Homo sapiens: one gene and its partners. The protein of the gene in region 6 interacts with the protein of the main gene of each other region in a biochemical or structural test. Each region holds a gene or a part of one and is shown on either strand. Other genes may lie near its edges. The genes, in order: TTC3, BLVRA, RAC1, DAB2IP, IKBKG, AKT1 and URI1.

Region 1 (3,500 bases), on a different chromosome or scaffold from region 6:
ATCAGATTACATCTATAAAAGATGAAAAGCAAACACTTAAAACAATCTAACGGGGGAACATAAAATAATAAAAAATCAAATGCAGATGGGATTTCACAAAGAGGAGATTTGAATCTTTTGGTCTAAATCAGCCAATATTTTAACATTAACTATAAATTATTAAAATATAGTTTGCTTATGCCCATCCTTAAAATGCAGAATCTTTGAGGAAAAATATAGGCATATCAGGAATACAGACTCTTGTAAAAAATTTAAAAAGTCAGTATCATCTCTCTTGTGGAGCTACCAGAACAGGTTTTTCAAACAGAAAAGGGGAACAAACGTGGGGAACAAACGTGGGGCGCTTGGCTATGTTAAGAATTCTTATCACTAGAATACTGCTTCGAGACGTTCATAGTACTTTCCAAAAGAAGCCACCCACCTCAAAGAGCCCTGCGCAGCCCCAGTGACCCATGAGTGTGGTAGCCGTCATTTTATTAGCCACTGTTGGCAATCATCAAAGTATTCACTCAGAGTGGGGAAATTACTTAATATCAGCGATATTAACGATTTCCATGTATTTAGCTTTGTGACACACAATGCACAAGGGTCTTCAAATGTTTGTTTTTTACACCAGTGGTAGAAAATTGTCATTCTTCGGATTCAACACACTGGTGGATGACACTTTAGTGAAGTGTGACTACCTAGAAGAGCAGGAAGGCAGCTCCTGATTCTGACTGGGCCAGCCTCTTCCAGAAGGTGACTCTTCTGTCAGGAGATCACGACCCTGGCAGGCCGGGCAAGCGCTCTGCCCTTTAAGCCACTGCTTAAAGCACTGAAAAGGAGAAAACAAAATCAGAAGATGCCTTCAGGACCATGAGGAAGCTTAGCTCCCCTGTGCTGCTGGGCTCCTTGGCAGGCGTGGCTCACTTGCCCTTGGTCTCTTGGGCCTGGAGCTGCCCAATACTCAGGGACACCAACACCCGCTCAGGCCAGAGTGTGGACAAAGCCCCAGCCGCAAACGATCCCACCTCAGGGTCAGATCCTGAGCGCTCTGGGCCTCCAACCTGGCCTCAGGGGGTGGTCTTGCCCTGATCCCCGGTTCCAGGCTCGGCTCTTCCACTTCAGCTGCGCCAAATTCCAGAGCCTGGCATTCTCGGCCCTATGACCCAATCACTCATTCTTAGCCCATCCCTTGGCCTGGCCTTGGCCCTTGGCTCTGGAACAGCCCTCCAGCCTGCACGCCACACTCCTGCTGCTGCTGCCCACACTGCAGAGGCTGTGGACAGTCAGCTAGCCCAAATATAAGACCCTGTACCCAAGGAGGCACACCACACCAGAGACTTGGCAAGTGGTCTCAATTCCTTTCAGTGAGCATGCTGTATTTATCCCGTTCCAAGGGATTAGCAAATCCCCATGGCAGAGACCTGATCTGTTCTAACCCAGCAGCAGGGGTGCACACAAATGCTCACGGTACCTAGAACACCATGATAGTTCACACACAGATCCCAGAACGGTACGAGCAGGACTGTCCCTGGGTCAGGCAGAAGGGACTCAGCTAGGTTTAGTTTTTCTCCTCTAAAATGTTAAACTGACTTCATATACTACACTAAGTCAAAAAAATGGTTTCACTGTTTCTCCATTTAGTCAAGTGTGTAAGAAATCACCTTTCAAGGAACTAATACTGCTTTGAATCTCAGCACTAACGAGTGGCTGGAGCTGCTGTTCCCCTCTCCCCACAAGGGATGGAAAGGACGGTCTCCAGAGCTGCCCTTCCTGCAGAGCTGGTGTGAGGACAGGGAGGCACTGAACACTGACACGGGAGGTTTGCAAAGAAAATAGTTTGAAAGCACAATAAATACTGATGACTAGAAAACAATTCCTTTCTTATTTTGAAAATATTTGAAGGTCCCAATGCATGCTGTAAGGATGGCCAAAAAGAGCTCTTACCCCTTTGTGATACTTGTGCCCACATTTGAGCACACGCACGTTTTTTGATTTGAACACCTCGTGGCATATTTCACAGGAACTTGCACCCAGTGCCTGTGGAAACAAACACACCTGAATAGTAAAGAATAACTACAGTTGTTTTTATGACACGAGTTCTTCCTTCAAGTGGCCTTCAAACATCTTCTGCCACAAAGGGTGGCAAATTATTCACAATTACAGCTAAACAGTCTGAGGAAACAACTTATTTTTTAATAGCATTTCTTAAGAAAAAATATAAAAATACAAAAAGAAAAGTATAAAGTTCTAATTTCCTCAGAGAAAAAACTGTTTTATGTGACCAGAAGATCCCCAGGTGAAGATTACCATACCTAAAGTACAGTATGGGATAATCACATGGCATGGTGTGAATTAATCATACATTTAATCATCTAACAGTTGAGGGTAGTAAATTCCAACACATCCACACAATGGGCTATTGTGTAGCCAAAAGGAAAATCATGACGGAAGCCCATAATCCCTGACATAGAAAGCTGGCCCCAACAGCCTGCTGAATGAAAGCAGCTAACAAGACAACATGTATCATATATAACTCACTTTTTAATAAAGGGGCTGCATGTATACATACATGCCTAGAAAAACAGTTAACAGTGGTTGCCTCAGGGTAAGGGAGATTTAATCTTTTTCTTTACTATTTTCTAGTTTCTATGAGCATGGATTACTTGTGCAAATCAAAACAAAACAAACGGATGGCTCATCCGGCAAACATCCATGGGCAGGGTTGGTGTCGGGTGCTGGACGCAGAGATGAATGGAGGGCTCTGGCCTCAGCGGCTCACAGTCTGGTGAGCATAGACAGTGCTTTCGATGTGAGAGCAGACCTGAGTGTCGCCTGGGACTCCAGGCACAGTTCTCCCTGCAGCTCACAGCACTTACCCTTACTGCACCATTAACTTCTACTCTAGCTCACTGCCTCTTAACTCTGAGCGCCTTGAAGGCACAAAATGAGTCCCATCTGGGTCTTTAGCAGCTGGCAGAAAACCTAGCTCAAACTCATGCTCTAAAAACCCCTGCTGAGGGAGTGGGCGAATGCAGGCAGCCCTGGCAGTGGGATCAAGTTCAGGGAGTGGCACTGGAGGCATCACCCCAAGGCTGAGAAGACCTTGAACTGCTGTTCAGGGTTTTGCTGTCTCTCCCAAGGCATGACTCGGCCCAGGAGGAGATGGGGCAGATGCTGCAGAAGGAGGGTTCATGCCCCTCCACTGCTGCCCATGACTCGAGGGTCAGGGAAGAAGAGGAAGTGCCAGACCGGGGAAGAGCCATTGAAGGCCTCTCCAATGCCCAGTGCAAAGCTCGGAGCCAGGTTTAGTTTGAAAAAAATATACACTTAACTTGACCGTTTTCTATTTCCTAGAAAAGATGGGCACAGTATATTTCTAACTAAAAGAAAAAAAGGACAACCACAATAAAAAAAAAAATGGAAAACAACCAAAACATTCAGCCCCTCAGAGAACATACAAAGTGTGACTAGCGTATTCAGTTTTGACTAATTCACATATCCATGCATTCAAGAGT
Region 2 (3,500 bases), on a different chromosome or scaffold from region 6:
ACTAGAAAGTTGAAAGAAAAAAGTCAACACCTTTGCAGAAACAACTTGCTTGAAGCAATTTAAAGCAGGTTTCTCCTCCCCCCGTATCTACTGCAGCCGGTCTGCAAAACAGTCTTGGAGTTTGAGCCTTTATTTGCTTTGACTCCGAAACACAACGGGCTCAGGTGCACACAGATGAGCTATCTCTCTAGAGGGATGAAGAGCCAGCCTGTGACCCCAGAGAACAGAGTTCTAGACCTGGCTTGGCACCCACTAGCTATGTGATCAAGAGCAGGACACGGGGTCCCTTGTGCCTTAGTTTCTGCACCTTGAAATAGAAGAGGGGGCAGATGAACTTAGATGACCCTTATGTTCTCTTTCTGTGCTAACATATCACTTTAACCCACTTTACTTCTTTTTTTTGCGGGGGGTGGGGGGTTCTCTTTCGGTTTAACTTTCTTGGTGTCTGGCTTGGTTAACTGAAGGTTTTTAGCTTCTCTTCTGGCTCCGCAAGCAAACTAGGTTGAGGCTCAGGTTGCAGCCATCAAGTTCCCAGGCACAAAGGTTCTGTACAGATAGGGCTTTTCCTTGGTACTCTGCCAAAGAGAAGCCACTCTCTTCCCCACCCCACTTTCCAGCCCCTATCTGCTCTATGTCCCTCCTCTACCTCCTCCTCACCACTTCAAAAGCTTCTACCTTTTACTGAAAGTGATCTTAATATAACAGGAGAGAAATGAGATGAGGTCAATTACTTTCACTAAAGTCTAGTGTATTTAAACTTGGAAGGGCATAATCACGTTTGAAAAGAGCTGCTTATTAACTCAAATAATTGTAGAACAATGTGTAACTCTATTTCAAAATAGGGTTGAGAGCAGAACTTTCTGGAGTCCCATACCTGTTCTTGGGCACTGACCACTCCCAGAAGGTCCAGATCATAACTATGTTCCCTTAGTGCTGAAAGATGATTTCTGCCCAGCCGAGTGCTACAGGAACTGCGTACACAGGCACAACTCACAAGTGCGGGGGCGGGGCGGGCAGGGGAAGGAATGCAAATCTTCCACACGCCAGAATATGTGTGGGTCTAACTTTTGTTTCTAACATTTTAAAAGCTCAATAATTATGCTTTCAAAGATCTCTAGAGAGAACATCTTTCTTCAGCAGATCGAGATTTTTTACAAGCAAGATTTCACAACGTGTTATCTGCATCCTCAATATTAATTACATAAATAATTTTATTCTCTACACTGACTATATCATGTTCTTTCACTGTTTTGTTTTCCTTTAGATTTTTTAAGGCGCTCCAAGTTCTCAGATTTCAGGTGAGGAACTTCAAGGCCTTTTCAAAGTCTGAGGTTTTCTGAGTTTGTAAAAGAGAAACGGCTAAGTTACAAGAAAAATCATTACGTATAAATTTGACTTATATAAAATATTCAACTATTCACTCAGGCATCAGCAAATATTTGTTTTAGCACAACAAACAGCACACATGAGTTGAAATATGGTGGACAGAAAACAAACCTAAAGAAATCCTGTAGCACCTAAAAAGAGAATGACACGACATTACTTCATGAAACAGAGCCAGGGGTCAAAAGCAGTAGTGGCCCACGGGTGCGCAGTATGTGCTTTGTTTTTCAAAAACATTTTTTGCCTATTTCCTTTTATTCCCACAATATCCCTAAGAAGTAGAGCGCCCCCCGTGCCCCAACCTTCATTCTGCAGAGGCAGAAAGACATTGGATCCCTTGCTGATGGTGGTCCCTGGTGGTCCCTCCTCAGCAGGCAGGCTGACTGTACTCTTAGCATCCAGCTGGGTTTAGCCAGTGGAGGAGATCGGCAGGCAAGAAACAGAAAGAGAGAGGCTAGGGTACTTGTGCTCCCCCTGCCTGGTTCCTCAGGCTGCTGCTCTGGCAGTGGCTGCATTCTGTGATGGCCACAGCAGGTCTGGAAGGGAGTGGCTCCTCCAGCAGTATTCCAGCCCCCTCCTCCCAGCTCTGGTCCCCTCCCTACCCCTTCAAACCAGAGAGGGGATGGTGCCCACTGAAGCTCTTCCCTGTGTGCCTCACCATCACTTGTTGGCTCCTCCAATCCTGCCCACTCTTCTATAAAAAGTCTCCTTAAAATTCCTTTCATTTTTATGCTTTTCACTGTTGGGATTCCCAACTGATAAACTTGGCAGTATATCAGTTTGCAGCATCCCTGGCCTTTCCCCACTAGATGCCAGTGGCACATACCGTTTTCCCCCCAGCACGACAATCAGAAATGTCAGTAACAACTACTGGGTTAAGGGCCGGGCACGGTGGCTCATGCCTGTAATCCCAGCACTTTGGGAGGCCGAGGCGGGCATGGGGCTGATCATGAGGTCAAGAGATCGAGACCATCCTGGCCAACATGGTGAAACCCCATGTCTACTAAAAATACAAAAATTACCTGGGTATGGTGGCGTGCACCTGTAGTCCCAGCTACTCGGGAGGCTGAGGCAGGAGAATTGCTCGAACCTGGGAGGCGGAGGTTGCAATGAGCCGAGACCGTCCCACTGCACTCCAGCCTGGGTGACAGAGCAAGACTCCATCTTAAAAAAAAAAAAAAAAAAAAAAAGGAACTACTGGGTTCATGGAAATCACTAAATTATTGCTGACAAAGCTCTAGAGTTTCACATTCCAATTTGCACGTGGGAGAGATGCAAAATCTCACAGTAAATTAATAGCACAGCCAGGACTAAACAGCTTCCTTGGCTTACATTATGTTTCCCTTTTGATTTCAGTCTCTTTCCCACATGCAAATTGGAATCTGAAACTCCAGAGCTTTGTCAGCAATAAATTAGTGATTTTCATTAACCCAGTATTTCTCACCAACATTTCTGATTGTTGTACTCGGGGGGAAAAGGGTATGTGCCATTGGCATCTAGTAGGGAAAGGCCAGGGATGCTGCAAAACATCCTGTGATGCACAGGACACCTTCCTACCCCAACTACACATACACAAAGAATTATCCAGCCCAAAATGTCAACAGTGCCAGAGTTGAAAAAGCCTGGATTACACATCATGCAGAATGAACTACAGCTGTGACCTTCCTCCTTGTTCCTCCTCAAACGCCCTCTCAAGTATCTATTATTGCCCCAAAGCCAGGTGACTCACAGAAGTATGGGGAAGGATTAGGGAGAGGGTGACCCTCTCAGGTGGGGCCAGCTGCCAGCCTCAGAGGTCTAAGGGTAAAGGTAAAAGCAACTCTTGCCCTGGAGGGAGTTGGATACTTTGGGATCTATTGAGAAAAATATAATAGCTACATGGGACACAAGTCTGGAAATATATACATCAAAATATTACCAGTAATTATGTCTCTAAGTGGTGAAACTTTTAGTGACTACTTTCTTTTTGCTTCTCTGTACACTTTAAACTTTTCTATAAAGATTAGTTAACATAATTATTCAAAACTCTAAAAAACATTACAAACTATGCCACTTTCACTGACTGCATCCCTCCTAGCCCCAAACTGAACAGACTTTCACAGGGCAATAACATATCA
Region 3 (3,500 bases), on a different chromosome or scaffold from region 6:
CATGGTGGTGGGTGCCTGTAAGCCCAGCTACTCAGGAGGCTGAGGCAGGAGAATCGCCTGAACCTGGGATGCGGAGATTGCAGTGAGCAGAGATCATGCCATTGCACTCCAGCCTGGGCAACAGAGCAAGACTCCACCTCAAAAAGAGCAAAACAAAACAAAACAAAAAACAAAATCAACTCCTCTATAAATCCTCTTAAAAGGTTCCCTCTGATAACAGGAAGACATGATAAAGCAAATACAGCAAAATGAACAAGTAGAGCAAAATACTGTCATAGAATCCAGGCCATGGGTATGTGCATGTTGACTGTACAATGCTTTCCACTAGTCTGTTTGAAATTTTTCATATTAAGACATTGCAGGAAAATATTCCTACTGATCACATGCAATCCTGCCTTGGTGGCAAAGACTCTTGACAAAAACATCTCCTTTCAAGGAAGACTACAATTTTAAGAGCTACGTAGTGATGGAGATGTGAAAAAGTAGGCAGTACTAAGGTATCAGATGACTAATGCAAAAAGACAGAAAGTTATAAAGGGTGAATTTAAGGTTTCTAAAAATGGCTTCCTGATGCTCCTCCCACTTAGCCCAACTCCAAACTTTTACTGTAACTATCATTTGAAATTAAAACACACACACACACACACATTATGTATAATTTTTTTGGCTTATCAAGAAAAAAAACCACATTATGTATAAAATCATCAACAAAGATCAGAGCCATATACTACACCTACATTTGGAGGCCAGTGCAGAATTCAAATACCTTTACCACAGGTCAAAAATATGAAACCCCATGCCTTGAGAGGAAAACACACAAAACAGCTGAAAAGCTTAAACAAATTCATGGTTCACGCCACCACCGTTCAACAGAAGTAAAGAATAAATGTAAAGAATGTTCCTGTAAGGATGATGTCACGGAAGGCATTTTTCACATTCAGCTAAGAAACTCCTGGACAGTAATGTATGTCCAAGTCAGACATTGGGCTAGACAGGCCACTAGCCCAATCTGGACTCCACTTTGTATAAAGAGTGAAACAGAGAGGGCTTCAAGTCATTCGTTCCCATTCCTTTAATCAACCAACACCAAAACAACACTATTAAAATAGTTGTGGCCGGGCGCAGTGGCTCGGGCCTGTAATTCCATCACTTTGGGAGGCCAAAGCAGGAGAACTGCTTGAACCCAGGAGGCAGAGGTTGCCATGAGCCCATATCATGCCACTGCACCCCGGCCTGGGTGACAGAGCGAGACTCCATCTCAAAAAATAGTAATAAGCAATAAAAAAATAAAAAATAAAATAATAAAACTGTTGTTTAGGCCAGGGACGATGGCTCACGCCCATAATCCCAGCACTTTGGGAGGCCAAGGCGGGCAGATCGCCTAAGGTCAGGAGTTCGAAACCAACCTGGTCAACATGGTGAAACCCTGTCTCTATTAAAAATACAAAAAATTGCCAGGCGTAGTGGCTCATGCCTGTAATCCCAGTACTTTTTGAGAGGCTAAGGCAGGTGGATAACCTGAGGTCAGGCGTTTGAGACCAACCTGGCTAACAAGGAGAAACCTCGTCTCTATTAAAAATACGAAATTAGTCAGTGTGGTGGAGCGTGACTGTAATCCCACCTACTCGACAAGCTGAGGCAGGAGAATCGCTTGAACCCAGGAGGAGGAGGTTGCAGTGAGCCGAGATCGCACCACTGCACTCCAACCTTTGCAAAAAGGGCGAAAACTCCTTCTCAAAAAAAAAAAAAAAAAAAAAATTACCTCGGCATGGTAGCAGGCACGTGTAGTTCCAGCTACTTGGGAGGCTGACGCAGGAGAATCACTTGAACCCAGGAGGTGGAGGCTGCAGTGAGCCAATATAAAATAAAAACAAATAAATAATAAAAGTTGTTTATAAATACCTGAATGTAAGATGCTGTCTTTTTTTTCCTTTTTGAGACGGAGTCTCACTCTGTTACCCAGGCTGGAGTGCAGTGGCACGATATTGGCTCACTGCAACTTCCACCTCCCTTGATTCAAACAATTCCCCTGCCTCAGCCTCCCGAGTAGCTAGGATTACAGGCGCCCCCCACCATCCTTGGCTAATTTTTTTGTATTTTTAGTAGAGACAGGGTTTCACCATATTGGCCAGACTGGTCTCGAACTCCTGACTTCAGGCAATCCGCCTGCCTTGGCCTCCCAAAGTTCTGGGATTACAGGCATGAGCCATCGCGCCCGGGTGATGCTGTCTTACCTAGGAAAAGCTGAGAGAAAATCTTGGGGCAAAGGTCCACTAAGTGAAAGTTAAAAGGTGGGGCAGCAGTAAGGTGGAGGAAAAAAAAATTATAGACCCCATGCTCAGAAAGGACTATCTTAGAATAAAAGAGTATCAACCCTATGTAATATTTCTTGGCCAATCTCAATTAAATTGCTATTCAGGAAATCTAGAATTTTCTAACATGCTTTGCAAATTATTTCTGACTTTTTTTCTTTTTTTTTCAAGACAGAGCCTTGCTCTTGTCGCCCAGGCTGGAGTGCAGTGACACAATCTCAGCTCACTGCAACTTCCGCCTTCCGGGTTCAAGTGATTCTCCTGCCTCAGCATCCTGAGTAGCTGGGATTACAGGCGCCCACCACCACGCCCGGCTAATTTTTGTACTTTTAGTAGAGACAGGGTTTTGCCATGTTGGCCAGGCTGGTCTCGAGCTCCTGACCTCAGGTGATCCGCCTGCCTCGGCCTCCCAAAGTGCTGAGATTACAGGCATGAGCCACCGCACCTGGCAGACATATTTTCATACGGGTGTATTATCAGTCTCTATCAGTCAGGGTCCCAGAAGGAAAAAACTCATCCCAGAAGATTGAAATAGAGATTTTCATGAAGGAATTATTTACACAGCCCTGTATGCAGAGTTAAGGAGCAAACAAGATGGCAAGGCATCCAATTCTAGAAATGATAAGACAGAACCATCCCTAGGGATGATGAGACAAGGAGCAGGAGTTTCCTTAAGAGCCCAGTGTAAGCAGAGGCACAGGAGGGCAGGATGGAGGGACGTACAGCCTGAAAGGACACTGCCATGGTCCAGGCAAAGGGTCAAAGCAGGAACAGATGAAGATGTATCTCCTTTAAAAACAAACAAACAAAAAAAGACAGTTTCCCTCTGTCACCCAAGCTGGAGTGCAATGGTACAATCTTGGCTCACTGCAACCTCCACCTCCCAAGTTCAAGCGATTCTCCTGCCTCAACCTCCTGAATAGCTAGGATTACAGGCGTGCCCAGCTAATTTTTCTATTTTTAGTAGAGACGAGGTTTCGCCATATTGGCCAGACTGGTCTCAAACTCCTGACCTCAGGTGAACCGCCCACCTCGGCCTCCCAAAGTGCTGGGATTACAGGCTTGAGCTACCGTGCCCGGCCAAAGACGTATCTCTAATAGTTTTTGTTTTTGCTTTTTTGAGACAAGGTCTCACTCTGTCGCACGGGCTGGAGTGCAATGGCACAATCTCAGCTCACTACAACCTCC
Region 4 (3,500 bases), on a different chromosome or scaffold from region 6:
CCACCTGAGGGCAGGGCCCCACCCAGGGAGAAACTCAGGCTGAGGAAGCCACCCTGTGGCCTTTGAGCCAGTCCCTTCTGACCTTGAACTTCAGCCTCCCCATCCACATGGGGGCTTGGTCCCATGGTGTGGTAGCATCGGACCTCAGAGGAGTGGGTGGTGCCTAGCATCTCAGCCTGGATCAGACTCTTGCCCCCACACCCTTTCTGGCCTCTGGCACTAGCAGGGAAGGAAAATGACCAAGAACTCAGGCTGTGTATTTGTTCAGAAACAGAAAAATGCAAGGAAGAGTTGGTTGCTGCCAGGTTCTGCAGGTGGCCAGGCTGGGGGAAGGGAGCAGGGCTTTGTCCCTGGTAGGGCTGTGAGTGAGGGACAGTATCTGCAGTCTCCCTAGTTTGACCAATAAGGGACTTAGGTTCTTCCCTTTTCTGGGCTTCAGTTTCCCCATCTGAAGGATGGGCAGAGTGAGACCTGCTGTGGTGGGGGGTAGAGCACGAAGCTGGAGGGTAGCTGGAGGTGGGGTAGAAACAGTGACCTTCGGAGGGTGAGGGCCATTTGCATTTTCCCACTGTGTCCCTAACTCCACTTGAAGGCTGGGCATGTCCCATGGATTTGGGGGGATCCTTTCCCCAGAAGGGTATCATCAGCAAGGTGCCTCCCCACCTAGTCACACCAAAATCAAGAAAAGTTTTGTCTCTGACCCCTGTGTTTCCCCAGGGCTGCTAGGAGAAACAGAAATTTTCCTCTAGCCCTGGATAAAGTTCTGACCCATTCATTCAGCCAGTCAGCTCCTCTTAAGCACCTACTATGTGCTGGGCTTCAGCTTGGGTGCAGGGGCACATGGAGATGAATCACATGTGCTCCCAGCCCTTGCCAAGCCCCCAGTCTGTTGGGGAGGCCAGCTTGTTGGGGTGCACTAGGGCACAAGTCTCTTTCTAGGGGACAGAGCAGTGGTTAGTGGGAGGCAGGGGCTGTAGTTCCAGCTCAGCCGCGGACTGGTTGCATGACTGGGCACATCATAGGGCCTCAGTTTCCCCATCTGTCGAGGGGGGTTAATCTTGCTCTCCTGCCTCTTGGAATGCCTATACCCATAGCCATGAGGGGTTTTGATTATGTTGTTCATGTTTTCATCTGAGTTTTTCTAGGGGTCCAGCCACCTGCCAGGCCCTGGCTGGGAGCTGGGGGTTTTGCAGATGTTTTTCTCTTGAGATGGTCAGGTCCTCCTCCGTGCCTGTACACACCCCTCTTGCATGCCTCTGTATCTTGCCCGCGTGGTGGGAGAGGATGGTTTCATACAACTGGTTCCTAACCAAGAGAACAGTTAGGTAAGGACCTGTGTGCCACCATGGGGGGTGGGTAACTTCTCAGGGGACCCTGGCTTTTTTTTTTTTTGAGACGGAGTTTTGCTTTTGTTACCCAGGCTGGAGTGCAATGGCGCGATCTCAGCTCACCGCAACCTCTGCCTCCCGGGTTCAAGCGATTCTCCTGCCTCAGCCTCCCGAGTAGCTGGGATTACAGGCATGCACCACCACACCCGGCTAATTTTGTATTTTCAGTAGAGACGGGGTTTCTCCATGTTGGTCAGGCTGGTCTCGAACTCCCAGCCTCAGGTGATACACCCGCCTCGGCCTCCCAAAGTGCTGGGATTACAGGCATGAGCCACCGTGCCTGGCTGGGACCCTGGCTTTGATAAGGTCTGCAAGAGGCCTCTGGGGCAACAGCTTGGACTTCATGAGTTGGGCGAGCCTGAGAACAGCCCTGAGGTGGGGGGGTTTTGTGGTTCCCCAGTTTTCAAATGTTCCCTGCAAGGGCCCTAGGCCTGGCTCTCTGCCTCCACCTTGGATGACACCTGTGAAATCATTATGCCCTTTTCTGCCTTGTCTCTTCTTCTGTTTCTGCCAAGACACAATCTTTCATTTGGGGCTTGGCCCTAGCCTTTCCAGTCCCTCCTCTCCCTTACATACCTCAAGGATTGGGGAGCTCACTCCCTCTCAGGTTGTGTAATGAGGGTGAAAATGGCTCCTTTTTGTTACGGCTCCTGTGTGCTGCGTGCCTGCTCCATGCCTGGCAATGAGCTCAACTCTGAACTTGCCTTGTCTTATGCAGTGTTCAGAACAACACTGTGAGATGGATACTGATACTATCCTCATTTCATAGGTGAGGAGACTGTAGCCCAGAGAATGAAAGCTTTGCCCAAAGCCACACAGCTCAGAAATGGTGGAGCCCAGCTCTGCCCACCTCCAGGTCCTGAGATTCACCTTGCGATATCCGTGGGCAGGCAGACCTTTCTAAGGTCAGGCCCTGGCTTTGAGAAGGCCACCTCCCTTCACAGCCAATGACTTCACTGGGTGTTCATGGCAATTGTCTCTCACAGTCTTGGTCAAAGCTTGGGAGGGAGGCAGGGGAGTGGCCCCGTTGGCATCTGGTTGCCTCCTCCACCTGCCTGGGATAGCTCAGGTGGGACCTCCCCGGCCTGCCCCTGCCCCCTGGATCCTGCTGTCATTCATGACCTGCCAACCATGCCCTTTCCCAGGGCATGCGACAGGTCTCAGGGCCTCAGCCATGTTTCTCCACCAAAGCCCTTAGTGCTGAGGGTTCAGAGTCCCCTGGTGTGAGGTCCCTGGAGCCTGGCAGACACCTGAGGCCTAATCCCCAGAGCTCTCTAGGTCCTCGAAGGAGGCCACAGGCCCCAGTGAATCTGCTGGAATGTCAGCCTCTTGCCCTTGCCTTTGTCCTTCCTGACCCACCCTCATCATCTTTAATAATCAGGAAGAGAACAGCTCCCTTTCACCAAGCTGAATGTGTGCCCGGCCCCATGCCAAGAGCTCCCCCTGATTACCTCATGTCTCATCTCAGTTCTCCAATCCTCCTAGCAGGTAGGGGTTATTGTTGTCACTTTCCTTTACCAGGTGGGAAACGGAGCTCTGGGTGTGATATTTCCTCTGCATTTTCCTGTCGGGGTGGTGAAATAACTGGTTTGAACCCAGTCCACTGGACTCGAAAGCTCATGCTCAGAAGCCCCAGGGCTCCCTCTAACTTTCTTGGTTGCTGCAACTCAGAGAGCGCTGGAATGGACCCAGGGCATGCTCCTCATCTCAGCGGTTCAGGTTTTCATTCTTCTATCTCCATCCTTCTATTTAATTCTGTACTTACTAAGACCTGGGGGTACAGGGAGGGGCTTGGAGCCTATTTGCCCAGCTGCTGAATGGGGAGGTTGGAGAGATGGATACTTATGGCTCCAGTACCAGGAGCCAACTGTTTCCCTTGACAACTGGGGAAACTGAGGCCCACAGAGCCAAGGCCACTTGCCCGTGGTTACCTAAAGATGTTAACGAGAAATCCGGGTCTGGAACTCAGATCCCTTTGTATCCTGTTTCGGTGTTGGTGTAGTTTGTTGCTTTCCCTAAGATGAGCCCAGATAGGGAAACTGAAGTGCCTGGGCTCCTGGTTGGGTCTTCTGCGGGGAGAGAATGGCGATTCAACTCCCGTGTACTGTTGAA
Region 5 (3,500 bases), on a different chromosome or scaffold from region 6:
ACACGGCTGGCCTCGCGGCAAGGACGCTGGCTGCCCCGTCATCTTTCACCTGAGCCTGCACTCGCCCCCTCCCGACTCCCTCCTTCTCCCTTCGCAAGGCCAGGCCGCCTCTGCTGGGGCGGGAACGGAGCTCAGCTCTCTCCCCCGCAAGCAGGGGTTTCTGAAGAAGATCTCTTTTGCCAGCTTGAACAAAGGCCCGCTTTTGTGTACCTTTGTGTATCTCCGGTGTTCTTGTCAAAAGAGGAGGACAGGCACAGAGGCCCGCGGGGACAAGGCCACAGGATGACGGAGATGGAGGCTGGAGAGGTGCAGCCGGCGGCCCCCGGCGCCGTGGAGAGGCCTGGAAGGCAGCTCCCTCGCGGCCCTGGCGGGGAGCCCACCCTGCCGACACCACCGCTAGCTCAGCCTCCAGGCCTCCAGAAGCGGGAGGCCACGCGTTTCTGTGGCTTCGGCCCCGCAGTCTGTGGTGCTTGGTCACGGCAGCTGTAGAAAACTCATCCACTTCCCACACAGGAAATCAACGCCTTAAGCCAGGCGCTCTAAGCCCTGAGTGGAGCGGCGTGCACAGCCCACCATCCACGCCTTTCCCCAGGGGAGTGGAGCCTGGCTGTGGCAAGTGCCAGGTACCCGCCAGCAAGTCTCCTCTCCAGCACTTCTCTCCACCTTGCCCCTCAAAGGGAGCACGGCCCCTTCCTGACTACCATCGCCAGGATCCTGCGATCAGCCAAGCCCACACACAAAGACCCTGAAACCAGGCGGTCTGTGCTAATGACACGATTTATGGGGGGAGCCTTGGGCCACACAGCTGGACCTCTGGTGGCTACAGCCGAGTGACCAGGGTTGGCCACGCAGGCGCTCGGTGCCCACGCGGCCCACCCCCCGTGAAAACCCCGGCCGCCACGGCTGGGGTGAGCTTCCCGGTTGTGACTCCGTGCTCGCTGTCCCACACTGTTGCCGAAAGAAACAGGTGCCGTCTGCACAACTCCCCTGGGCGAGGAGCCGCTGAAGCTCACGCCTGGTCTCTCCTGGAGCCCGCCCTGTGCGCCCTGAGCCTTCGCTCACCGTAACCTGTGTCCTTTCCTTGTAATAAACCGGAACTGGGAGTGTGACGGCTTTTCTGAGTTCCGAGCCCTCCCGGCACAGCACTGAGCCCCAGGGTGCTTTGGGGGACCCCGACCACGGGTTCCCTTGTGGAACACTGGCGTCACCGCGGGTTTTCAGAACCTGGCCCTGCCCCGACTACCTGCTGGCATCTCTTCAGGTGCTCCACCTCCCGCAGAGCCTGCTCCTTCTGCCTCTTCAGATCGAGCTTCTCCAGGCCGAGTCTCTCCACCAGTTTCCTGGCCTCCTGGAACTTGCACATGAGGAACTCCTTCTCCTCCCTCTGGCTGGCTTGGAAATGCAGAAGCTCCTCGCAGCGCTCCCGCAGAATCTGGTTGCTCTGCCGGATGGCATCTGGTGGCAGAGGGGACAGTGGAGGGGAGCTGGGCAGCCCGGCCTGCCGGGCCCTGCCTGGGCCCACATGGGCCTGAGGCTCAGGAAGTCAGAGGCCAGAAGTGGGGCCACCCATCCTGGTGCCCCCACCCGCCATAATACCACGCAGCTTCTCTCAGGGGTGGATGGCGTCTCAACACTCCCTTTTGTTTCTTTAAACACTTCCAAAATCCTTTACACTAATGCCCCTCACTTTCTGCAAGAAAATAACACCAAACACATCAGCTTCACTTAAAAGTACGTGTTGGCCAGGCACTGTGGCTCATGCCTGTAATCCCAGCACTTTGGGAGGCCAAGGTGGGTGGATCACCTGAGGTCAGGAGCTCCAGACCAGCTTGGCCAACATGGTGAAACCCCGTCTCTAATAAAAATACAAAAATTAGCCCGGTGTGGTGGCACACGCCTGTAATCCCAGCTACTTGGGAGGCTAAGGCAGGAGAAGCACTTGAACCTGGGAGGTGGAGGTTGCAGTGAGCCGAGATCACACCATTGCACTCCAGCCTGGGGGACAGAGCAAAACTCTGTCTCAAAAAAAAGAAAAAAAGTATGTGTTAAATGCCACTTTTTTGAATTTTTATTTTTGTAGAGACAAGGTCTTGCTATGTTGCCCAGGCTGGTCTCACATCGTTGGCCTCAAGCAATCCTCCCACCTCGGCCTCCGAAAGTGCTGGGATTATAGGCATGGGCCACTGTGCCTGGCCTTATGCCACTTTGTTTGTAAGTGACTCGAATTCATTTGTATTCTGGTCAGTCTGAGGTGTGCCTGCCCTCAGATGCTCGGTATTGGTCCTCCCTGGCCTACATCTCTGCTGTCTTCTAGATCGGGGGTCCTAACACGCCTGCAGACTCCTAGGGTCAGCCTCCCAGGCAAACTTCACTGCAGCATTGCTGGCTGCAGCCTGAGAGGCCCAAAAGGCTTGGACCAGGCAAGTTAGTGGCGTCTCTGAGCCTCAAAGTCCTCATCTGCATAGTGAACAGAGACAAGAACATTCATCTTACAAGACGAGGAGGGTTAAACGAGGAAGCAGAAAACAAACGGGAAAAACCGCTGGTCCTCCCCTCACCAGAGCATGTGTGCCAGTGCCAGGCAGTCAGCAGAGGCCACAGGAAGGAGAGCCCCACACCCAGGAGACACCCCAAGTAGTGAAGAAGCCATCTGAGGTGACAAAACTGATAAGTGATGTGCCAAGGTTCTAGCAACTCTATAGCAACTACAGAGCTGGATAAAATGGGGCAGGCAGTAGCTACCCCGTGATCAAAACCCTCAACCAACTAACTATTGCCTGCTGACGAGCGCAACATCCACCCCCCATCAGAATCCCGCTTGCTCTGCCCAAAGCTCAGCTCATCTGCAACTTGTCTTTTTTTTTGAGACAGACTCTCGCTCTGTCGCCCAGGCTGGAGTGCAGTGGCGCGATCTCAGCTCACTGCAACCTCCACCTCCTGGGTTCAAGCAATTCTCCCTGCCTCAGCCTCCCAAGTAGCTGGGATTATAGGTGCCCGCCACCACGTCTGTAGCTAATTTTTGTAGTAGAGATGGGGTTTCACCATGTTGGCCAAGCTGGTCTCAAACTCCTGACCTCAGGTGATCCCCCCGCCTGGGCCTCCCAAAGTGCTCGGATTACAGGCATGAGCCACTGCACCTGGCTGGCAACTTGTCTTTTAAAAAATGTTCTGAACTGAGGTAAAATTCACATGACATCAAATTCACTATTTTAACTAATTCAGCAGTTTTCGGTGTATCCATCAGGTTGTGCAACCATCCGCACTATCTAATTCCAGAACAGTTCCGGGACCCCATAAGCAGTCGCTCCCCCAGCACCCTCCTCATCTGCATCTGCCTCTGCAGATTGGCCACTTCTGGACATGTCTCACACTAGTGGAGTCACACACTAGAGACATGCAACTTCTTCGTGAATCTCTCCCTCAACATTCTAAGTACAGCCTCCTCCATGGACATAAGCATGTACATCTTGGGGGACAGACATCTTCTGGGCCCTTAGGGG
Region 6 (3,500 bases):
AGAACCTGGGGGTCCAGCAAGTTCAAGGGAGTCGGAGGACCGCAGGCCTCAAAGAAAGGAGGGCAGAGCTACTTGGAGGGGAGGGGCCGATGCAGCACATGGGGATGGAACCTAAGGCCAGCCCCTGGTGGGCACCTCGCTCTGCACCACAGACCTGCCTGAGACAGATCCCAGAGGCCTGCAGTTACCCAGCCCTGCCACATACAGATGGCCCACAACTGGGCCCTAATTAGCCACTCAGTCACACCTGCATGCCCAACCCGTGTCTCTGGCTGCCACAGGCAGAGCTGGGCTCCAGGACAGGGACACAGAAAATGGGGACCATGCTGGGAGGCCCACGTGTCCCCAGCCTCCCACCTAGCAGGGCGCCTGGGTCTCCATGCCAGGGTTCCCGTCTGACATGGGTAGGGTCGCACCTGCCCCCGCTACAGGTAAGGAATAAAGCCACAGCAGGGCGGAGCAGGGAGCGTCACATGTCTCTCATCTCTGTGGGATGCTCCGGCCAAGGTCCCCCGCTGGCCTTTCTGCACCTGCCCCTCCATGGGCAAGGAGGCAGCCTCACAGAGGGGAAGCAAAGGCTCTGCCATGGGGTCTGGAGGCTGAGAGCCTGTGCAGGGAGAGGCACGAGCTCTTCCTCGAGTGATGGAGGCTTCAGAGCTGGAGACCCCAATGGACTCTTGCCCCCTCACCCAAGGGGTTTCCCAAGGAGAGGCCCTGATGGGCTCTATCTAACCCCCTTGGAGGAGGGGCCCCCGGGGCAGCTGTCCACCCTGAGACTGGGCTCTGCTGCCACTTGTCCGGACCCTCCAGCTTCCAGAGCATGGGCACCAGGGAACTGCTCCAGGGTCAGCCAGCCTTGGGACTCGGCCCAGAGACCCCCGCCCAGCCAGCCTCGGCCTCAGGACTCTGCCCAGAAACCCCTGCCCAGCCGGCCTCGGCCTCGGGACTCAGCCCAGAGACCCCGGCCCAGCCAGCCTCGGCCTCGGGACTCGGACCAGAGACCCCCGCCCAGCCAGCCTCAGGACTCAGCTCGGAGACCCCTGCCCAGCCAGCCTCGGCCTCGGGACTTGGACCAGAGACCCCTGCCCAGCCAGCCTCGGCCTTAGGACTCAGCCTGGAGACTCCCACCCAGCCAGCCTCAGCTTTGGGACTCAGCCCGGAGACCCCTGCCCAGCCAGCCTCGGGACTCGGCCCAGAGACCCCCACCCAGCCAGTGCTTGTTGCTTGCCAGCCCAGGACTTGGAGGCTCCAGGGGACCCCCATCGTGGGGCCTGGTGGGCAAAGAGGGCTCCAGCCAACCCCCCAAATCTGAATCCCGAGAGGCCAAGGGGATACTTACGCGCCACAGAGAAGTTGTTGAGGGGAGCCTCACGTTGGTCCACATCCTGCGGCCGCTCCTTGTAGCCAATGAAGGTGCCATCATTCTTGAGGAGGAAGTAGCGTGGCCGCCAGGTCTTGATGTACTCCCCTACAGACGTGCGGGTGGTGAGAGCCACGCACACTCTACCCGTCAGACCCTCGCCAGGCAGCCAGGCAGGAACTGGGTGTGCCAGGACAGATGTGCCTGGGATGCCTGAGTCCCAGGGGGCAGGCGCGGTACGGGAGCTGTTTCTTAGGGCCAGCGACAGAAACGGCCCTGGGTCAACGGGAAGGCAGACTCGCCCCACCACAGCGCCCCTCTCAGAAGAGCCACCCCGAGCTGTGTCTGAAAACGGGCTGGGCCAGCTGGACGCAGGGGATGGAGTACCATGGACAGGAGGCTGGGAAGAGGTCTGGGCCAGTCTGCACAGCCTTCCTGGAGGAGGCAGCCCTAAACCAGCCAGTCCCCAGCAGGCACCAGCAGCAGCTCGGGCCCCAGCTATGGCCACAGGGGCTGCGGGGCTGACAGCATTCCCCAATCAACCAGGGTCGGCCAGGTGGCGACAGCAGGTGACAGTGGCTTGTGTGGGCTGCCCAGCATGGCCGCCCCCCCCGCCCCGCCGCCACCCACCAGGAGGATGGAGCATGGCGTCCACAGTTAGAGGTCAGCACCACTCAGACTGAGGGCCGGGCTCGCGGGACAGGACTGCCCACTGCCGTGGGATCGCACTCCCTGTCTAGGGGCCTGGAGCACCGTCTTGGGGACTGCCGATGAAGCCAGACACGGAGGTGGCCCAGCCAGCTGGGCAGGGGCCCCAGGGCACAGAGGGTGCCAAGTCCCCAGGCTGAGACCCACACTCAGGCCCTGCCGCCGTCGGCCCTGCCGCGTCCCACCCGTGGGTCATTCAGGTACACGGGAACATTCTCCCTCAAGTTTTGCAGCATCAGCCGTACGCAGGCGTTCACACTTCAGAATCAGAGCAGCTGTCCTCGGTGATAGCCCAGCAAGTACCATTTTTCATACTGACACTCGGAAAAAAATGTTCCACTTACATTTTGCCAAGCAAGGAGTTTGAACAACAGGGAACTTACTAATTAGGCAACTGCTTCATCTGAGGGGTCACTGGGCAGGGGTTAGGGAGGGGGCCAGGGTAAGGGGTTGGGGTCCCTGAGCTCTGGGGCCTGGGTTTTCATGCCACACTGAGCCCCAGACAGGGACACCTGGAGGGATGTGGGGGACAAGCAATTGTCCCATCACCAGACCACCCACCACCCAGTCCTGCTGGGTCTTCGTGGTGAGCCCAGACGCGTCCAGCCCTCCCTGGTGCACAGGGAAGTCCCAGCAGGGCAGCAGCCCCAGGGGAGCTCAGAGGACATGGGTCATGGGCATCCCAGCAGGCATTCTACTTTCCAGGGAGCCACGGGGGAGTTCTTTAATAGAGGTGAGCCACCAAGGCTCGACACATGGCCACCCCCCGGCCAGGTGACCTCTCCCTCCTACCCCGGCCCCAGCTGCCCAATGCCCTTCCCACCAGCACCACGGGGCGTGGTCTCCACAAGACCAGCCCTCTCTCTGCCCAAGCCAGGGCTGCTGGGGGGATGCTGGTGGAGGGTGGGGACACCCCACCCAGCAGGGCCTGAGTGTGGGAAGAGGCTGTTGTCAGGTCTGGGGTGGACCAGGAAGGGGACAGCCACAGCCCACTCATAGCTGCCTGACACCTCTGGAGGACGGCCAACACCCAGTTGCAGGGAGGATGATCCAGGGCCCAGAATCTGCCCCTGTGCCCAAGAGCACTCATCAGGAGACCCCACCCACTCCGCAAGCCCTCCATGCCCCTGCCAGTGGGCTGCCGAGCAGGCGTGGTCCTGCCACCCTTGGGTGCCGGCTCCTGTCCCTGACCTGGGATCTCGCACACCCCCGAGTGTGCACATACACGCACATACGTGCCACGCAGCTCCACCCCGCCTCCCACGTCCCCTCCCCCAGCCACAGGGCCCCTGCAGGTGCAGCGGGCAGGCAGGGGCGCTCAGTGAGAGCAGAGCAGGCTCAGGGGGCTGCATGCAGCCCACCCCACCCGTCCCCCATCCTGGGCCACCCCGCTGCTCACGCCCACCCGCCTGCATGCCAGTCTGGAGCTGTC
Region 7 (3,500 bases), on a different chromosome or scaffold from region 6:
CAGTTACCTTGATTTTTTTCAAATACCACGGGTAAGGGTAAAAGAACTTGTTGCCAAAGTAACTCAGGATACCTTATTTCAAACTACATGTAACCTATTTTGCTATAGATACTCTAAACAAATGAACAACTAGGTTTTAGGATGTAAATTCCCATTTCCTAGACAGGGCCTAGTCTTTCTGTTGCAATCTGGCAGCTTTAAACTTTGAAACCCTCTTTCCAGTTTCTTCAGATGCTTCCAACAGAACTTCCTTTCGTTCTGGAATAGTGGGTAGTGCGGGATGAGCAATGGCTGGGGGTGGTGTTAAGGAAGGTGATACAAATTCTTTTTCTATAACAGTTCCAGAAAAAGCCTAGAAAACAAAAGTCAGGTTATGGTAATAAAATGCAAATAAGACACCCACAAAATCTTCCCATTCACTCATTTGGCAATTCTTTTCATTAAAAGTAAATTCACGAGATTTTTGGCTAGACAACACTACTACACCAAAATACTAATTGTTCAGAGAAACCAACACCATTAAGTTTTAATTTCACCACCAAACAGAAGTAATTTTTACAGTATACATGCAAGAAAACAAAATGTAAAATGTAAATTTTATCTGGGAAAAAAAAGAAATGGATAAATAAAAGGTCTTCAAACTTTCATACATTCCATTCATGTCCAGCCCATGCTGTGAAAAATAATGTATTAAAATAAAAATGCTATTAGGGTGTCAAACTCTGACTTTTGTACATCAGTTGATGAATGAGCTATCCTATGATGGCCTTGCTGCCTGCTAGCCAATAGCTTAGTTTCACCAGTACTGACATTTCTAACTGATATCTCTTTGGTGGTGTTTATGCAATTATTTAAATATTTTACTGCATATTGCCTCAATTTTAAAAGATCAGTGGAAGTTGAAAAATAAAAGTGCTGATACTAGTAGGAATAAGTACAGGTTTCAAAATTTTAATATAATTAACTCAATGACAGAAATCAGAAGTTCCACAAAAAAAGAAATGACTCAATTTCACCTGGATGTTTGCTGCATTTAATCTGGTCAACTATATGTTCAACTGGAACAGAATTAAAGAATGTGCATAAATTGCTGGAAATATCTGTACATGTCGTTTTATACAAAAATAGGTAAGACACAAGGAGTTAATTTTTTTTTTTTTTTTAAGATTGCTGGTATTTAGAACCTCCATCCTTCCCTCTACAAATGAAAATTTGACAGGTGAACTTTAATGTACATTTTGTTCTCCTCTGTCTACCAAGTGCTCAAAATTAGTTAAAACAACGTAACACCTAAATAATTTAAAAAGCCACCTTCTTCTACCTTGCCCCACCACTGAAACAAAAACAAAGAAAGCCATCTCTCTCCTACATTATTTTTGGAGTTCAACTGGTAAAAGCAGCTTAAAGCTTACTTTCCTAAAAACTCCACTTTATCACGATGAGCATAGAGCCTTCTTCTCCTTCTTCTATTTAAAATGCCTTTGAAAAAGAGGTATTTTAGCATTTAAAAAGATACTGAAAAGGATATCTTCCAAAGTACTTACCATAATCATGAACTATTTCTTTGATGTTAAAAAATGTATAGCAACTACTATTAAACATTTCCATACAAAATGCAAAGCTACTAAGGGTGAAATAAAAAATAGGTTCCACACTCTAGCTGTACCATGATACACTAAGTCCTTACAAAAAACTAATTTTCAAACATTTATCAGCAATTACCTGATAACATCCATTACCTGTTTTCTAACAGTATGGAAGACTATCAAATAAGGTAAGATACTTTCCAGGTCACCTAAGATCATTATACTAAGAAGAGGGGAAGAAAACATTCTAGTCATATGTACTGTCCCTAAATGCTACCAATCTCCATCCCCAATTACCATTTAATACACTGAGTATAATACCATTTAGTAAAAGCAATGGAATTTTTAGATAAGGTTATATATATGCATGTATCTTATTGTATATACAAATGTGTACACTGGTTTGATCCAGGCATGGGTTCCCCAATCTTCCTAAATACTTTTTAAATTGAAAACTTCAAATACGCACCAAAACACAAGAATGAAGAAATCAATAGCCTTATATTTCACAGACATCCTTATTTGGGGATTTCCTAACCTCCCCTGCACCACCACCAAAAACTGTAAGAAGTGTGGTGGGTGAAAGTGTATTGAGTGTGCACTATTTTTTCTATGGACAGGGTCTACAGCTTTCATCAGATTATAAAACAATTCCATAATCCCCCAAGAGTTAAGTTTCACTGGTACAAGGTAAAATATTAGACTTTAGGTAATTATCTGCTATGCATGCATTATTTTTCTTTAACTTAGCCAAGGTATTTAAAAGAGAATAATGTAATCTGCTCCTTACACTATCAGAAAATGACCTACTGGTAATTTATTTAAAATAAACTGCGAAATAATTTCCTAGCTACAAATGTAATACATAATGCCAAGTAAGACATTTTAAATTTCCCATTTTGCTGAAATAGAACGTTAAGACAAGTAATGTGTTTATCAAAAAATAAACTATTTGATTATCACAATATTTGTACTGTTTGTGACTATTAATTTTTTATTAATTAGTACCAAGAAAGTATAAAACCTAGAATTAATTTAATCTTATGACTTTTCAGATTAAATAGCTAAAACTGGTCAAAGATACTATATGAAATAAAGAATTAAAAGATACACACACACACCTCAGGTGTTACTGATAAGGGCAAAAGTTTCTTTTGATTTTCTTGTGGTTCCTCTTCCAAAATGCTCTCACTGGTGTCACTGCAAGTGGCTTCTTCGCAGCTGATACTCCTCAAAACTCCCCGCCTATCATCAAATTCAGCAGCACTGCTTTCACTAGTGTCGCTACACACACTATTCTCTCTACTTCGAGACTTCAGGATGGATTTGCGAGGGACATATTCTCCATTCACAACATCAACAAAGGCTCTGTGATATTCAAAACACATATGCATTCACTATACGTAACTCATAAAACTGAGAACAACTTTTTGAAAATTTCCTTGAATCTATTCTAGAAATTAATCTGAAAATTTTTATTACAATCTTATATCTAAAATAGTCACAATCACAATAATTTTATAGCCTCAAATGGTATCTTCATACTATTTTGAAAGCTATTTCTCTGGCCTAATAATAAAACACAGCATGTTATTTATTTATTTTATTATACTTTAAGTTCTAGGGTACATGTGCACAACGTGCAGGTTTGTTACATATGTATACATGTGCCATGTTGGTGTGCTGCACCCATTAACTCATCATTTACATTAGGTGTATCTCCTAATGCTATCCTTCCCCCCTCCCCCCACCCCATGACAGACCCCGGTGTGTGGTGTTCCCCACCCTGTGTCCAAGTGTTCTCATTGTTCAATTCCCACCTATGAGTGAGAACAAAAACACAGCATGTTATTTTTAAGCATGTCCTAGGTGGCAATAGCATGGTTTGCCAAAATTCTACATAAAGTTTTAGAC

The links.
Region 1: the proteins of AKT1 (region 6) and TTC3 form a complex in vitro, tested with the Homo sapiens proteins (one study listed by BioGRID and IntAct).
Region 2: the proteins of AKT1 (region 6) and BLVRA form a complex in vitro, tested with the Homo sapiens proteins (one study listed by BioGRID).
Region 3: of the proteins of AKT1 (region 6) and RAC1, one has a biochemical effect on the other in vitro, tested with the Homo sapiens proteins (one study listed by BioGRID).
Region 4: of the proteins of AKT1 (region 6) and DAB2IP, one has a biochemical effect on the other in vitro, tested with the Homo sapiens proteins (one study listed by BioGRID).
Region 5: the proteins of AKT1 (region 6) and IKBKG form a complex in vitro, tested with the Homo sapiens proteins (one study listed by BioGRID and IntAct).
Region 7: of the proteins of AKT1 (region 6) and URI1, one has a biochemical effect on the other in vitro, tested with the Homo sapiens proteins (one large-scale study listed by BioGRID).

What each region holds. Positions count from the first base shown.
Region 1 is NC_000021.9:37,198,754-37,202,253, reverse strand, and holds part of TTC3 (E3 ubiquitin-protein ligase TTC3), read right to left. Parts: intron 2,023-3,500; coding exon 1,930-2,022; intron 815-1,929; coding exon 680-814; 3' UTR 1-679. UniProt on the Homo sapiens protein: E3 ubiquitin-protein ligase which catalyzes the formation of 'Lys-48'-polyubiquitin chains. Mediates the ubiquitination and subsequent degradation of phosphorylated Akt (AKT1, AKT2 and AKT3) in the nucleus.
Region 2 is NC_000007.14:43,761,680-43,765,179, reverse strand, and holds part of BLVRA (biliverdin reductase A), read right to left. Parts: intron 2,550-3,500; exon of another isoform or gene 2,406-2,549; intron 976-2,405; exon of another isoform or gene 875-975; intron 1-874. UniProt on the Homo sapiens protein: Reduces the gamma-methene bridge of the open tetrapyrrole, biliverdin IXalpha, to bilirubin with the concomitant oxidation of a NADH or NADPH cofactor. Does not reduce bilirubin IXbeta.
Region 3 is NC_000007.14:6,377,527-6,381,026, reverse strand, and holds part of RAC1 (ras-related C3 botulinum toxin substrate 1), read right to left. Parts: intron 1-3,500. UniProt on the Homo sapiens protein: Plasma membrane-associated small GTPase which cycles between active GTP-bound and inactive GDP-bound states.
Region 4 is NC_000009.12:121,654,634-121,658,133, forward strand, and holds part of DAB2IP (disabled homolog 2-interacting protein), read left to right. Parts: intron 1-3,500. UniProt on the Homo sapiens protein: Functions as a scaffold protein implicated in the regulation of a large spectrum of both general and specialized signaling pathways.
Region 5 is NC_000023.11:154,554,120-154,557,619, reverse strand, and holds part of IKBKG (NF-kappa-B essential modulator), read right to left. Parts: intron 1,456-3,500; coding exon 1,244-1,455; intron 1-1,243. UniProt on the Homo sapiens protein: Regulatory subunit of the IKK core complex which phosphorylates inhibitors of NF-kappa-B thus leading to the dissociation of the inhibitor/NF-kappa-B complex and ultimately the degradation of the inhibitor.
Region 6 is NC_000014.9:104,778,749-104,782,248, forward strand, and holds part of AKT1 (RAC-alpha serine/threonine-protein kinase), read right to left. Parts: intron 1,469-3,500; coding exon 1,340-1,468; intron 1-1,339. UniProt on the Homo sapiens protein: AKT1 is one of 3 closely related serine/threonine-protein kinases (AKT1, AKT2 and AKT3) called the AKT kinase, and which regulate many processes including metabolism, proliferation, cell survival, growth and angiogenesis.
Region 7 is NC_000019.10:30,011,739-30,015,238, reverse strand, and holds part of URI1 (unconventional prefoldin RPB5 interactor 1), read right to left. Parts: intron 2,955-3,500; coding exon 2,708-2,954; intron 353-2,707; coding exon 170-352; 3' UTR 1-169. UniProt on the Homo sapiens protein: Involved in gene transcription regulation. Acts as a transcriptional repressor in concert with the corepressor UXT to regulate androgen receptor (AR) transcription.